Homo sapiens: one gene and its partner. The protein of the gene in region 2 interacts with the protein of the main gene of each other region in a pairwise test. Each region holds a gene or a part of one and is shown on either strand. Other genes may lie near its edges.

Region 1 (3,500 bases), on a different chromosome or scaffold from region 2:
GGGGGAGACATCCTAGTTTTGGATACTCAGTTTGATGTGCATGAGGAAAATCCAGTGGATACATATGGATATTCTAGCCCTGACTCAAGAGAGGGTTCATGGATATAGATAAAAGCCCATGGAGTCATTAGCACACAGGTGGTATATAACTGTGGAGAGAGTTGACCAAGGAGAGTAGGTAGAGGAGTTCACAACCTTTTTGCCTTCCCAGCATACTGGAGTACTATAAAATTCTTTCCCGTAATAATGATTGCCTGGGGCAGCAATTCTCAGACCCTGGAAAGTATAGTTTGGCAAAAGCCCCCATTGGTATTTCTGCATTTGACAATTACTGGTGTAGAGGGAAGAGCACTGGGCCAAGGAAAAAACACTGCAGAATACCAATTTTTATTTATTTATTTATGCCCAGGCTGGAGTGCAATGGCGTGATCTCTGCTCACTGCAATCTCTGCCTCCCGTGTTCAAGCAATTCTCCTGCCTCAGCCTCCTGAGTAGCTGGGATTACAGGTGCCCGCCACTACGCCTGGCTTATTTTTGTTTTTAGTAGAGACAGGGTTGCACCATGTTGGTCAGGCTGGTCTCGAACTCCTAACCTCGTGATCCACCCGCCTTGGCCTCCCAAAGTATTGGGATTACAGGCGTGAGCCACCGTGCCCTGACCGGAATACCAATTTTTAAGGTCTTGGCAGATGAGGAACCTAGGAAAGACACCAAAGACGAGGAAACTTAGAGAGTAGTGTCATGGGAGCCAAAGAAGTTAATGAGTTTCAAGAAGGAATGAGTGGTTACTTAATGTCACATGCAATAGCGATCTAATATGATAAGGACTGCAAAGAGTCTGTTGGATTTAATATTTTTTAGAAGGTTTGGTGAATTGGTGTTTGCAAAAGCCAATTGCTGTGCATTGAGGAATATGTTTGATTATTCATTCAAGTAATAAAAAAGAAAAAATCAAGCTGACTCTTGAAGAGGCCCCCCCACACACACACAAAAGAAAGAAATGTTTGTCTTATGTGCTAAGCACTGTTCTAGGTTGTTGAGGATGTACTGGTAAACCAAAATGTCCCTGTGTTTATGACACTTAGATTCTAATAGAAGGAGATAAACACAGGAAGTAATGATAAATAGACAAATGTAAAGCACTGTTTCAAGAAGATTGGCTAAAAGATTTACTGTAAGATTTACTATACAATAATATAGTAATAGCTAATGTTTATTGAATGCTTATTCTATCGCAGGCACTGTACATAGAGTATATCCTTTAACTCTCACAGCGACCTTGTGGAGTAGATATTATCTTTCCCATTTTATAAAGGAGGAAACTTAGGTTCAGAGTAGCTAAGTAATAACTTACACAAGATTACACAGCTAATAAGAGGCAGGTCTGAGACTTAATCCACAATCTGTCTGATTCCAAAGTTTGTACTTACAGCCACTATGCTGTTCTGAATCTGCAGAAACATGTTTTTATGTTGGTAGTAACCTTTAAGTACTTACATTTGCTCACTCATTTACTCACTTGCTACTAAAAAATTTTAATAGCAGTCATTCTTTAAAATGACTTTGTTCTATTTTGCCATTTATGTAATAGCATCAGACTTTATTATTTTGTCTATGCTTATCTATAGAAGTTCTTTGTTTTCACACAACTGCCTTATGCCAAAAGATGCCTCCCAGTTCTCACGTTGTGAAGAAATTGGTCACTGTTTTTGGAAATTTATAAAGATTCAAGCCGGGTGCTGTGGCTTGCATCCTGTAGTCTTAGCTACTCGGGAGGATCGCTTGAGCCAGAGTTTGAGGCTGCAGTGAGCTATGTAGTCTTGCCACTGCACTCCAGTCTAGGCGACAGAGCAAGACCATGTTTCTTAATTAAAAAAAAAAAGATCCAGATGGCTCACAAGAGTGTTAGAGACCCTTACTGTTTTTGTGTTCACCTCTTCAACAAATACTTACGGGAAAATTTCTTGCACCAGACACTGTGTTAGGTGGTGGTGACACAATGGTGAACAAACAAAGCTAGTTTCTAATCTCTTGGAGATTTCATTCTAGTTGAGGGAGACAATAAACACACAATGCACAGTATAATTTTAGATAGAAATAGATGCTATGCAGAAAATAACAGCATATTGCAATAGTGACTCAGTAGTGGGGAACTACTTCAGCAAGGATGGTCAAGAAAAGCCTCTGAGGAGGTGACATTTGAGCTGAGATCTGAATGATGATGAGCTGGCCATGAGAGCTGGGAGAAAACCATTTCATAAAGAGGGAATAGGTTACTGAAGGCCTGAGTTGGAAATAAGCTGGACATGTTCAAGGGTTAGAAAGAAAGCTAGTGTGGCTGAGTGTGTGGTGAATGAAGGGAGAAACTAGTAGGAAATGAAACTGGAGAGAAAGGCAGCAGCTAAATCATGTGGGATCCTATAGGTCTTTGCAGAGACTTTGTAATTAGAATGAAATCCACCAGGAAGCCATTTGAGAGCTTTAAGCAGGAAATGTTATGCTCTCATTTATAATTTTAAAAGATTGTTCTAGCTTCTAGGTAGAGATTTTAGACCAATTAAAAGTCCATTGTGGTAGTCCAGGTAAGAGATTATGAGATTGGATGGTCTTTCAGAGGTCTCTTGTCATTTAACAGTCTAGGTTCTAGGTTATTCACATCTGGGCTTTATTTGGGGTGATTTTCACAATTTTCCAACATCAGTTTTGGTCTCAGACCTTTACTATTTGCTGAAGATCCATTGGGGGAAACATATTACCACTATATCTTCATAAATATTGTGCTTATTATTTTACTGTTTGTTCCCAAAAGTAGTTAGTAAGGATAATTATCTCTAGTATACTTAATGTACAGGATGGGAAAAAGAATATTTACAACTCTGGCTTCTCATATTATTGTCTTATCCAAATATATCCTTTTTTTAGAATTGTGGTGGGTTTCACTTCACTATTGGAAAGGCAAAATAACATTTTTCAATGTCTAACACAATGCCTAACACACTGTAGTTATGTAATAGATATTTGTCCATTATATACGAACCATTTCTGCTGGCTAAATTCAGCACGTGCCACCAGTTTACAACGTTTATGCATAATTTATCATTTAATTCTCATAACCATGTATATAAGACCCCTGTTGTATAAAGTAGGAAACCAAAACTCAAAACACTTCACATTTTTCTTCATGTAATCCTCAAAGCATTCACATGAGGTAGGCTATGGCATTATATAGAATTTATAATGATGAAACAGACTCAGAGAAGAATAATGACTTGCCCAACTTTCTATTTTCTTACCCTGCTTTAGTTCTCTTTGTGGCACTTATTTTTGGATATAATATATATCAATTTGTGTATTTGTCAGCCCCACTAGAATATGCACTCCATGAGGGTAGAAACTGCTGTATAGGTTACCTATTGCTGTGTAACAAATTACTCCAAAACTCATTGCCTTAAACCATTTGTTATTTTGCAGTTTCTGTGGGCCAGGGATTGCAAAGCAGC
Region 2 (3,500 bases):
TGGCGACAGAGCGAGACTCCGTCTCAAAAAAAAAAAAAAAAAAGTGTAGACGTGGGTGCTAGTGGACTGTGTGATAGTACATCATCATTAATTATGAGGTTCTTTCTGGACTATGTGGACTTGAGTTAGCCAGGCTCTACTGTCCTGGAGGAGTTGGTTTTTATCTTTTTATCCTTTGAGAAGCGGGGGGAAAGGGTGTATAGGTGCATTTTTTCCCCCATTCTGTTCCTGGAGGTTTGTAGACCTCCTGAAACTTATCCATGGTCTCTAGCCTGGAAGGATTTGCGGCGACAGAGAAACCAGGTCAGATGTTTATAGGAATGGGAAACAGGTTGAATAAAAGGATCCTGTACAAGAATACCAATTTTCCATAAACAATACTAATTGGGTTTAGTTGGAGCAAAAGTTTTCAGCAAGCTGGTTAGATGAAGGTTGTGGTTTGCCAATATACAAAGTAAACTAATGCCACAAACTCAGGGACAGGCCCTCTTACTTTATTTGTCATGGGACCATCATTGAAGGAGAACGTACTCTGAACCTGGTATAGACTAATCCATCAGTCATTTGGTCATCTGCAACAGGGAAGACCAGTTTGGAGGGGAGGAAGTAAATAAGGTTGGATAGATGTGTAGCTGGAGTGATTATTAGTCATGTGGTCCATTGTGACCAATAAAGGGTAACTCCAAGAAATACTATGAAATGTTTAGATTTGATATTTAAAATAGTTGTGTGAAGTAGAAATTGAGTATCCAGATGGAAACAATCTGCAGAGTGAGATGTGTGGACCTAACTAAGGAGAACTTGGGAGAGGGTAGCTGGAAATGGCATTCATTCATTCGCAGACAATAATCACAGTTGACTGCGTAGCTCCTCAAGTTTAGCTTATTATCCTGCTGTAGTTCTGTCCTTTGCTGTGCTGAATTCTGCTGCCCAGGGACTTGAGCTTGGCTCAGTATTCAGTGAACATACTATCTTCTGGGCCAGTGCTTTAGCTGTGTTTTTTTTTTGTCCTGTGCTGTCATAAGCCTCATGTTTCTGTTGTGTTGGCTTGGGTTCTTGTCTTTGACTTTCTTCTCTCTGGGGGCCTCTGCACTCTCGCTTTGCTGTGCTGTAGAGTTATCCCAGATGCAGAACCAGCCCTCACTCTCACTCTTGTTCTGTTTTTTGGTGTAATGTCTAGCTTTATTTGCAGCTCCTTCAGCAGACTGCCTCCTCTGGGAACCTCAACACCCTGAGCAGCCTCCACCCAATGGGAGGTAAGTGTTTCACTGCTGCAGAGGAGCAGCAGCACCCAGGCCAGCAGACCCAGCTAACAACAGTCTTGGGAGTTTGGCATCGTTTCTGTGAAAACATTTTTTTGCTTATTATGTAAACCTGACCTAGGATAAACATCCCAGGACTCAATTTTCTTGTCTCTATACAGTGGCTCTATGGCTAGTTGATGCCACATTGCTCTGACGTTATCTGGTGCCTCCTAACCTTTTAGGTCACTGTTGAAGAAGAATATGGAAAAGGGCTGTTTAGCTCCTATAGACTGAGGCTGTTCTCTGATAAGGGGAAAAAATTGCAAGAACTCTTTATTTCCATTATAAAGTGACTTTTCCAGTGACTGCAGAAAAGCCAAAGATGGCTTCCATGCAAATGCCCTACCTTGAAGCTTCTAGAACCCAGGCATTTGGTTTACCTGTGTATCTTCTTGTTTCTTAGGTGAATTCCTATTTTGTTGTTGCTATTATCGTACACAGAAAACTTAAATGGAGTGCCACAACAAACCTGAGCTAGGGCCCATCAGGAGTCGGTTGGGGGTAGGGCATGGGACAGCTTCAAAGCTGCCTGTGCCTACACCCTCTGCATTGGATTTAGGCTAGGCCAAATGTGCATTTGAGAAAGGCATAGTTTTCAGTGAACTGCATTTTGCTCTTTGAAAATTTTTGATAGTCATTCACTTTGTCTCAGGAAATTATAGTTGGCTATATTTTTGGAAAGTTGCTAGATTGTAATCTGTATTGTATTTTAATTCTCGTTTACTCTTTCCACTCCCCCCACCCCTCACCCCATCCATCTTTCCATTGTCTAGTAAATGGTTTGCAGCAGCGACAGCACAGTTTAGATTCCTTCTTCCCCTTTCAACTGTGTTGTCTGGGCTCTACTTGGAAGTCTTTCACTCAGTGATTTTTCCTCTCTCCTCTTTCTGGTGATGAATCTGCTATTCAAGTGACAGTGTCTTTATTCTTTGTGTCATTGCTGCTCTGCTGTGTTCTCCCTTGTTTGCTCCTGGGCCTTCTGCATCTGCCATGTTTTCTGCGTGTTCCCCTCTATTACAGAGAGCGAATCCCCTGTAAAGTGTGAGTGAGGGGCCTGGATGCAGTCCCATTCTGTGCTGTAGGTTTTGGCATTGTTCTCCTGTGCTCCTGGCCCTATGGTAGGCAGTTTTTCTTGGTTTCCTAATTGCCCACACCTTTATTAATGTACACTTGGCATGGTATGCTATTGGATTAGCCATCTCTTCTCTGAGGAAATGATTTCAAGTTTCTTAATGAGTGATACATGAATCATTTTTGGAGCCCTGTAATGTTGTTTGTAAGGCTTATCTAGAACAGTTCCTCTTTGTCAGGGACCAGCCCTCTGCCAGTGTGTGCTTGTCATTGCTGGAATGGATATGAAGCACCCTTATCTGCTGGCTAATCTCTTGCTTTGGATGTTGTAGGGTTGAATGCAATGCAGTTACAGAATTTGGCTGCACTAGCTGCTGCAGCTAGTGCAGCTCAGAACACACCAAGTGGTACCAATGCTCTCACTACATCCAGCAGTCCCCTCAGCGTGCTCACTAGTTCAGGTAAGCATGAGGATGACCCAGTGTGCCATTATGTGCCTTGGACAGATGCTTTGTGTTTAAAGGCAGAGTCCAGAGAGGGAAAATAGTTAACACCTGTTTCCAGAGAGGTCAGATTATGAGCAACAAATTTTCAAATGTCATCTTTTGTACTTAAGAGAAATCTTCCTGATTTTCAATGTGCTGTGGCCATTATTTGTCTCTGTCCTGCAAGGACAGTTGTTAGAATTAGTAACTGAAAACCTCTTTACAAATAGCATACTTGGATAGTGACACTTTTTCTTGTATTTGGCGAGAATGCCAGTGATGGGTTGAATTTTAACTCCTTGCTTTCTAATAGCAGGGTCCTCACCTAGCTCTAGCAGCAGTAATTCTGTCAACCCCATAGCCTCACTTGGAGCCCTGCAGACATTAGCTGGAGCAACGGCTGGCCTCAATGTTGGCTCTTTGGCAGGTAAGGGGCAGCACCTGGCTGTCATCAGACTATTCTTTGTGCAGGTAGCACATCTTAACCCTGGTAGGGGCACCACTGGAATGATTGCAGTGGCCCAGTGAAGTTAAAAATAATCATGAGGGCCAGGTGTGGTGGCTCACACCTCTAATCCCAGCACTTTGGGAGGTCAAGGTGGGCGAATCACGAGGTCAGGAGATCGAGACCATTCTGGCT

Evidence for each region. Proteins that work in one complex are often made in the same cells at the same time.
Region 1: the proteins of CELF1 (region 2) and SLC25A14 interact in a two-hybrid assay, tested with the Homo sapiens proteins (one large-scale study listed by IntAct).

What each region holds. Positions count from the first base shown.
Region 1 is NC_000023.11:130,367,419-130,370,918, forward strand, and holds part of SLC25A14 (brain mitochondrial carrier protein 1 isoform 1 precursor), read left to right. Parts: intron 1-3,500. UniProt on the Homo sapiens protein: Transports inorganic anions (sulfate, sulfite, thiosulfate and phosphate) and, to a lesser extent, a variety of dicarboxylates (e.g. malonate, malate and citramalate) and, even more so, aspartate and glutamate and tricarboxylates.
Region 2 is NC_000011.10:47,476,633-47,480,132, reverse strand, and holds part of CELF1 (CUGBP Elav-like family member 1), read left to right. Parts: intron 1-1,180; coding exon 1,181-1,256; intron 1,257-2,707; coding exon 2,708-2,836; intron 2,837-3,173; coding exon 3,174-3,287; intron 3,288-3,500. UniProt on the Homo sapiens protein: RNA-binding protein implicated in the regulation of several post-transcriptional events. Involved in pre-mRNA alternative splicing, mRNA translation and stability.